2 linked regions of the Homo sapiens genome follow. The protein of the gene in region 1 interacts with the protein of each later gene in a pairwise test. Each region holds a gene or a part of one and is shown in the gene's direction. Other genes may lie near its edges.

Region 1 (3,816 bases):
GCATAGGTCTTTATTTATTTTTAGATAGATTTAGAAGTTTAATATAAAATTATGAAACCAACATTTCACATCAGCAGAAGAAAGCTGGATAATTTAATCCATTATGTAAACTTCCTGTCTGTTTATAAAAAACATAAACATCCCTATGTCACACTCAGAAAAGTGTGTCCCACTCAGAAAAACTCTAGAAAACGCTCTTCCCATCAGAACAGACATACCAGTGCTGCCTGTCCAATCACAACCCTTGAGCATCAGTATCTTGAAGTCTTTCTACACAGCATACTCTTTACCTTTATAAGACTTTTCTTATAATGTCTTATAAGATCATTTTTTAAGTCCGGAACAATGGTACTTGGAAATGGTTTCTGAGTTCTCGTGTGTGTAAGTATTCTCCTGACCGCATCTTTCTCCTGCTCTGTTCACACATCTGGTTCTTTCTCTTGCAACCTGGAAATGAAGTGGGGTTCCAGGAAGAACCTGCTGGCAGTGAACAGCGTCATCTCCGTGGCCATCCTCAGCGAGCGGGCCATGTCGTCACACTTCCACCAGCAAGTGGCCGCCATGCAGGTCTCCCCGAGTCTGCTGAATGTGTGCTTCCTGTCCACGGGGGTCGCACACAGCCTGCGCACCGACATGCACATCAGTGGAGTGTTTGCCACCAAGGTGACTGCCGAGGGGACCCGTGGGTGGGACACAGACAGAAGAACTGCCCCATGGCCAGGTAGTTCAGGGCAGCAAGGGCCCCAGATGGCAGGTTAGGCCACTCTCAGTTCCATCCTAGATTCTCTTATTTCCTGGATATCCATGTACATTATATTCATAAAGAAAATCGTAATAAGAATATAGGCCAGGCACGGTGGCTGACGCCTGTAATCCCAGCGCTTTGGGAGGCTGAGGTGGGCAGATCACTTGAGGTCAGGAGTTCGAGACCAGCCTGGCCAAGATGCTAAAACTCCAAAATACAAAAATTAGCCAGGCGTCGGGGTGTATGCCTGTAATCCCAGCTACCTGGGAGGCTGAGGCAGGAGAATCGCTTGAACCCAGGAGGTGGAGGTTGCTGTGAGCTGAGATCGTGCCACTGCACTCCAGCCTGGACGACAGAGTGAGACCATGTCTCAAAAAAAAGAACATAATAATAAAAAATATATACACCTGCCATGTACCCTTATAAATTAAAAAAAATGTCAGTTAAACAATAAATTTAAAAAGTAAATAAAGGAAAGAGAGGGATACTTTCTTTGCCATTCCCCAAACCTAAAAAAAAAAGAAAAAAAAAAACAGAAAAGAATCATAATAAAACCCATGGATATCTTATATAACACGGAAAACAGCCTCAGCCTGTCCACAGAGGACCCAGTGATCTCATAGTCGTAGGATGATGGAGCAGCAGTGTTCAGAAGTGTTTAGAGGAGGCTTTCGAGGTGTGCAGTGGGGTGTACAGTTGCACCTCACTTTTCCCGCCCTTTGCCTCGAATGTCCGTGGTTCTTTTCAGGATGCTGTCGCAGTCTGGAACGGAAGGCAGGTGGCGATCTTCGAGCTTTCTGGAGCCGCGATACGGAGTGCAGGTGGGTTCTTTTCACCCGGACAGAGGCACTCCCACTACCTGGCTTTATTTCCTCCCTGCCTAATGAGAGGGCCACTGTGGTGCAGTTGAGGGCTGGCACAGGGGCTGGGGAGACCCTTGTGCTACTGCCTGCGCTTCCAGAGCCAGGGCTGCAGCTGTGGCCCCGTGCTGCCAGTGCATCCTGGGGCCTGCTGTGTGGGCGTAAACAACCACCGTGCTTTTGTGGGGTTCCTTCCAGGGAGGAGGTGGCTGCCTCCCATCTTCTGAAATGTTTCCAGACCATGCACAGCAGTGAGACCTGTGGTGTCTTGACCCAAGGCCAGCCTCTGTCTGAAACTTCAAGGTGGCTCCTCAGACATGCTCCGTTAATCTCAAACACCCTTCTAGGTCCCCAAGATCTCTCCAGCTCTCTGCGGTTAGTTTTGCCATTGTTGCCCAGGCTGGAGTGCAGTGGTGCAATCTCACCTCACTGCACCCTCCGCCTCCCGGGCTCAAGCAGTTGTCCTGCCTCAGTCTCCCCAGTAGCTGGGATTACAGGTGCGTGCCACCACACCCGGCTAATTTTTATATTTTAGTAGAGACGGGGTTTCAACATGTTGGCCAGGCTGGTCTCGAACTCCTGACCTCAGGTGATTTGCCTGCCTCGGCCTCCCAAAGTGGTGTGATTACAGGCGTGCGCCTCCGCGCCCGGCCTTGGCCATTGTTTTCTTCCTGCTCTCTTCAGCACATCTATGGGAGTTTCCTGAGGCAGCTGTAGCAAAGGACCACAAACTTGGTGGCTTCAGACAAAGATGTGGGAAATGTATTCTCCCATAGTTCTGGAGGCCAGAGGTCCCAAATCAGTTTCACTTTTCACTGGACAGAAGTGATCGCGTCAGCAGGGCCACGCTTCCTCTGCAGCCCCAGGGGAGAACCCGTTTCAGCTTCTGGTGGCTGCCAGCAGTCTTTGGCTTGTGGTCACAAACCTCCAGTCTCTGTCTCTCTGGTCACATTGCCCCTGGTCTGAAATCTGCCTCCCTCCCTCTTACAGGGACACTCGTGAGTGTATTTAGGGCCTACCTGGATAACTCAGTATAATCTCCCCATCCCAAGACCTTACCATCTTCTGCCATATAAAGTAATATTCACACATGCCAGGGAGCAGGACCTGGCATCTTTAGGGAACCTTTCCCAGCCCATTGCAGTGGCCCCGCCACCAGGATGTGCAGCTCAGCTCCCCCCATTCCACAGTTATCACCTTCACCAACCCTGCCCCTCAGCCGCCTGCCCACACAGGAGGCCGCGTGTCATGCTCTTCCCAGGGCGGTTGCCCCCTCGTGTGTTTGAACGCCCCCACCTCTTCAGGCACATCCATCACTAGTTTCCGCCTCTCCCTCAGATCTTTCCCACATTTTTTTTTCTCTGCTAACACTTTGTTGCTTAAAGTTCTCTCATAACATTTTTCACACTCTGTCCAGGATTGTACCGACACTTCACATCCCCTCTCCTCCCCTCCCCTCCACTCCCATCCCCTCCACTCCCCTCCCCTCCCCTCCGCTCCCCTCCCCTCCCCACCCCCCGCTCCCCTCCCCTCCCCCGCTCCTCCCCTCCCCTCTCCTCTGTAGACTCCCTAGGAGCAAGGGTGAACTTCTTATTTCCCCCAGTAGAACCAACACAGCAGGTGCTGGGATATTTTTTGTTTTGTGTATATTATCATCTCCCTAACTAGATTCTTTCTGAGACAGTCTTGCTGTGTCACCCAGGCTGGAGTGCAGTGGTGTGATGGCGGCTCACTGCAGCCTCCATCTCCTGGGCTCAAGCGATTCTCATGCCTCAGCCTCCCAAGTAGGTGGGATTACAGGCATGCACCACAACACCTGGCCAATTTTTGTATTTTTAGTAGAGACAACATTCCACGATGTTGGCCAGGCTGGTTTCAAACTCCTGACCTCATGTGATCCACCTGCTTCAGCCTCCCTAAATGCTGGGATTACAGGTGTGAGCCACCAGGCCCGCCTCTAGATTCTTATCTATTATGTTGCTGCAAAAGTAATTGTGGTTGATGGCAAAAACTGCTTTTGCACCAACCCTAATAGTTAGGTCCAGGGACCAGGGCTTGTGGCCACCAGAGTTCCACCTAAAATGAGCAAACATTTGCTTAACTGGGTGTGTTGTCATAGATGCTGTGCTGCTGGGAGCACCAGCTGCCAGATGGGAGGGGTGAAGGGCAGGGAGCCCAGAGCCCAGCATGGAGTCTCCACATCAGCCCAGG
Region 2 (3,816 bases), on another chromosome or scaffold:
AGATCTTTTGTATGGCATGCCCTTGATTATGCAGATGAGTTGCCAAAACCAGAACAACTTGCTATTAGGTTCAAAACTCCTGAGGAAGCAGCACTTTTTAAATGCAAGTTTGAAGAAGCCCAGAGCATTTTAAAAGCCCCAGGAACAAATGTAGCCATGGCGTCAAATCAGGCTGTCAGAATTGTAAAAGAACCCACAAGTCATGATAACAAGGATATTTGCAAATCTGATGCTGGAAACCTGAATTTTGAATTTCAGGTTGCAAAGAAAGAAGGGTCTTGGTGGCATTGTAACAGCTGCTCATTAAAGAATGCTTCAACTGCTAAGAAATGTGTATCATGCCAAAATCTAAACCCAAGCAATAAAGAGCTCGTTGGCCCACCATTAGCTGAAACTGTTTTTACTCCTAAAACCAGCCCAGAGAATGTTCAAGATCGATTTGCATTGGTGACTCCAAAGAAAGAAGGTCACTGGGATTGTAGTATTTGTTTAGTAAGAAATGAACCTACTGTATCTAGGTGCATTGCGTGTCAGAATACAAAATCTGCTAACAAAAGTGGATCTTCATTTGTTCATCAAGCTTCATTTAAATTTGGCCAGGGAGATCTTCCTAAACCTATTAACAGTGATTTCAGATCTGTTTTTTCTACAAAGGAAGGACAGTGGGATTGCAGTGCATGTTTGGTACAAAATGAGGGGAGCTCTACAAAATGTGCTGCTTGTCAGAATCCGAGAAAACAGAGTCTACCTGCTACTTCTATTCCAACACCTGCCTCTTTTAAGTTTGGTACTTCAGAGACAAGTAAAACTCTAAAAAGTGGATTTGAAGACATGTTTGCTAAGAAGGAAGGACAGTGGGATTGCAGTTCATGCTTAGTGCGAAATGAAGCAAATGCTACAAGATGTGTTGCTTGTCAGAATCCGGATAAACCAAGTCCATCTACTTCTGTTCCAGCTCCTGCCTCTTTTAAGTTTGGTACTTCAGAGACAAGCAAGGCTCCAAAGAGCGGATTTGAGGGAATGTTCACTAAGAAGGAGGGACAGTGGGATTGCAGTGTGTGCTTAGTAAGAAATGAAGCCAGTGCTACCAAATGTATTGCTTGTCAGAATCCAGGTAAACAAAATCAAACTACTTCTGCAGTTTCAACACCTGCCTCTTCAGAGACAAGCAAGGCTCCAAAGAGCGGATTTGAGGGAATGTTCACTAAGAAGGAGGGACAGTGGGATTGCAGTGTGTGCTTAGTAAGAAATGAAGCCAGTGCTACCAAATGTATTGCTTGTCAGAATCCAGGTAAACAAAATCAAACTACTTCTGCAGTTTCAACACCTGCCTCTTCAGAGACAAGCAAGGCTCCAAAGAGCGGATTTGAGGGAATGTTCACTAAGAAGGAAGGACAGTGGGATTGCAGTGTGTGCTTAGTAAGAAATGAAGCCAGTGCTACCAAATGTATTGCTTGTCAGTGTCCAAGTAAACAAAATCAAACAACTGCAATTTCAACACCTGCCTCTTCGGAGATAAGCAAGGCTCCAAAGAGTGGATTTGAAGGAATGTTCATCAGGAAAGGACAGTGGGATTGTAGTGTTTGCTGTGTACAAAATGAGAGTTCTTCCTTAAAATGTGTGGCTTGTGATGCCTCTAAACCAACTCATAAACCTATTGCAGAAGCTCCTTCAGCTTTCACACTGGGCTCAGAAATGAAGTTGCATGACTCTTCTGGAAGTCAGGTGGGAACAGGATTTAAAAGTAATTTCTCAGAAAAAGCTTCTAAGTTTGGCAATACAGAGCAAGGATTCAAATTTGGGCATGTGGATCAAGAAAATTCACCTTCATTTATGTTTCAGGGTTCTTCTAATACAGAATTTAAGTCAACCAAAGAAGGATTTTCCATCCCTGTGTCTGCTGATGGATTTAAATTTGGCATTTCGGAACCAGGAAATCAAGAAAAGAAAAGTGAAAAGCCTCTTGAAAATGGTACTGGCTTCCAGGCTCAGGATATTAGTGGCCAGAAGAATGGCCGTGGTGTGATTTTTGGCCAAACAAGTAGCACTTTTACATTTGCAGATCTTGCAAAATCAACTTCAGGAGAAGGATTTCAGTTTGGCAAAAAAGACCCCAATTTCAAGGGATTTTCAGGTGCTGGAGAAAAATTATTCTCATCACAATACGGTAAAATGGCCAATAAAGCAAACACTTCCGGTGACTTTGAGAAAGATGATGATGCCTATAAGACTGAGGACAGCGATGACATCCATTTTGAACCAGTAGTTCAAATGCCCGAAAAAGTAGAACTTGTAACAGGAGAAGAAGATGAAAAAGTTCTGTATTCACAGCGGGTAAAACTATTTAGATTTGATGCTGAGGTAAGTCAGTGGAAAGAAAGGGGCTTGGGGAACTTAAAAATTCTCAAAAACGAGGTCAATGGCAAACTAAGAATGCTGATGCGAAGAGAACAAGTACTAAAAGTGTGTGCTAATCATTGGATAACGACTACGATGAACCTGAAGCCTCTCTCTGGATCAGATAGAGCATGGATGTGGTTAGCCAGTGATTTCTCTGATGGTGATGCCAAACTAGAGCAGTTGGCAGCAAAATTTAAAACACCAGAGCTGGCTGAAGAATTCAAGCAGAAATTTGAGGAATGCCAGCGGCTTCTGTTAGACATACCACTTCAAACTCCCCATAAACTTGTAGATACTGGCAGAGCTGCCAAGTTAATACAGAGAGCTGAAGAAATGAAGAGTGGACTGAAAGATTTCAAAACATTTTTGACAAATGATCAAACAAAAGTCACTGAGGAAGAAAATAAGGGTTCAGGTACAGGTGCGGCCGGTGCCTCAGACACAACAATAAAACCCAATCCTGAAAACACTGGGCCCACATTAGAATGGGATAACTATGATTTAAGGGAAGATGCTTTGGATGATAGTGTCAGTAGTAGCTCAGTACATGCTTCTCCATTGGCAAGTAGCCCTGTGAGAAAAAATCTTTTCCGTTTTGGTGAGTCAACAACAGGATTTAACTTCAGTTTTAAATCTGCTTTGAGTCCATCTAAGTCTCCTGCCAAGTTGAATCAGAGTGGGACTTCAGTTGGCACTGATGAAGAATCTGATGTTACTCAAGAAGAAGAGAGAGATGGACAGTACTTTGAACCTGTTGTTCCTTTACCTGATCTAGTTGAAGTATCCAGTGGTGAGGAAAATGAACAAGTTGTTTTTAGTCACAGGGCAAAACTCTACAGATATGATAAAGATGTTGGTCAATGGAAAGAAAGGGGCATTGGTGATATAAAGATTTTACAGAATTATGATAATAAGCAAGTTCGTATAGTGATGAGAAGGGACCAAGTATTAAAACTTTGTGCCAATCACAGAATAACTCCAGACATGACTTTGCAAAATATGAAAGGGACAGAAAGAGTATGGTTGTGGACTGCATGTGATTTTGCAGATGGAGAAAGAAAAGTAGAGCATTTAGCTGTTCGTTTTAAACTACAGGATGTTGCAGACTCGTTTAAGAAAATTTTTGATGAAGCAAAAACAGCCCAGGAAAAAGATTCTTTGATAACACCTCATGTTTCTCGGTCAAGCACTCCCAGAGAGTCACCATGTGGCAAAATTGCTGTAGCTGTATTAGAAGAAACCACAAGAGAGAGGACAGATGTTATTCAGGGTGATGATGTAGCAGATGCAACTTCAGAAGTTGAAGTGTCTAGCACATCTGAAACAACACCAAAAGCAGTGGTTTCTCCTCCAAAGTTTGTATTTGGTTCAGAGTCTGTTAAAAGCATTTTTAGTAGTGAAAAATCAAAACCATTT

Evidence for each region.
Region 2: the proteins of IFT140 (region 1) and RANBP2 interact in a two-hybrid assay, tested with the Homo sapiens proteins (one large-scale study listed by BioGRID and IntAct).

What each region holds. Positions count from the first base shown.
Region 1 is NC_000016.10:1,581,064-1,584,879, reverse strand, and holds part of IFT140 (intraflagellar transport protein 140 homolog), read left to right. Parts: intron 1-459; coding exon 460-663; intron 664-1,493; coding exon 1,494-1,566; intron 1,567-3,816. UniProt on the Homo sapiens protein: Component of the IFT complex A (IFT-A), a complex required for retrograde ciliary transport and entry into cilia of G protein-coupled receptors (GPCRs).
Region 2 is NC_000002.12:108,764,323-108,768,138, forward strand, and holds part of RANBP2 (E3 SUMO-protein ligase RanBP2), read left to right. Parts: coding exon 1-3,816. UniProt on the Homo sapiens protein: E3 SUMO-protein ligase which facilitates SUMO1 and SUMO2 conjugation by UBE2I. Involved in transport factor (Ran-GTP, karyopherin)-mediated protein import via the F-G repeat-containing domain which acts as a docking site for substrates.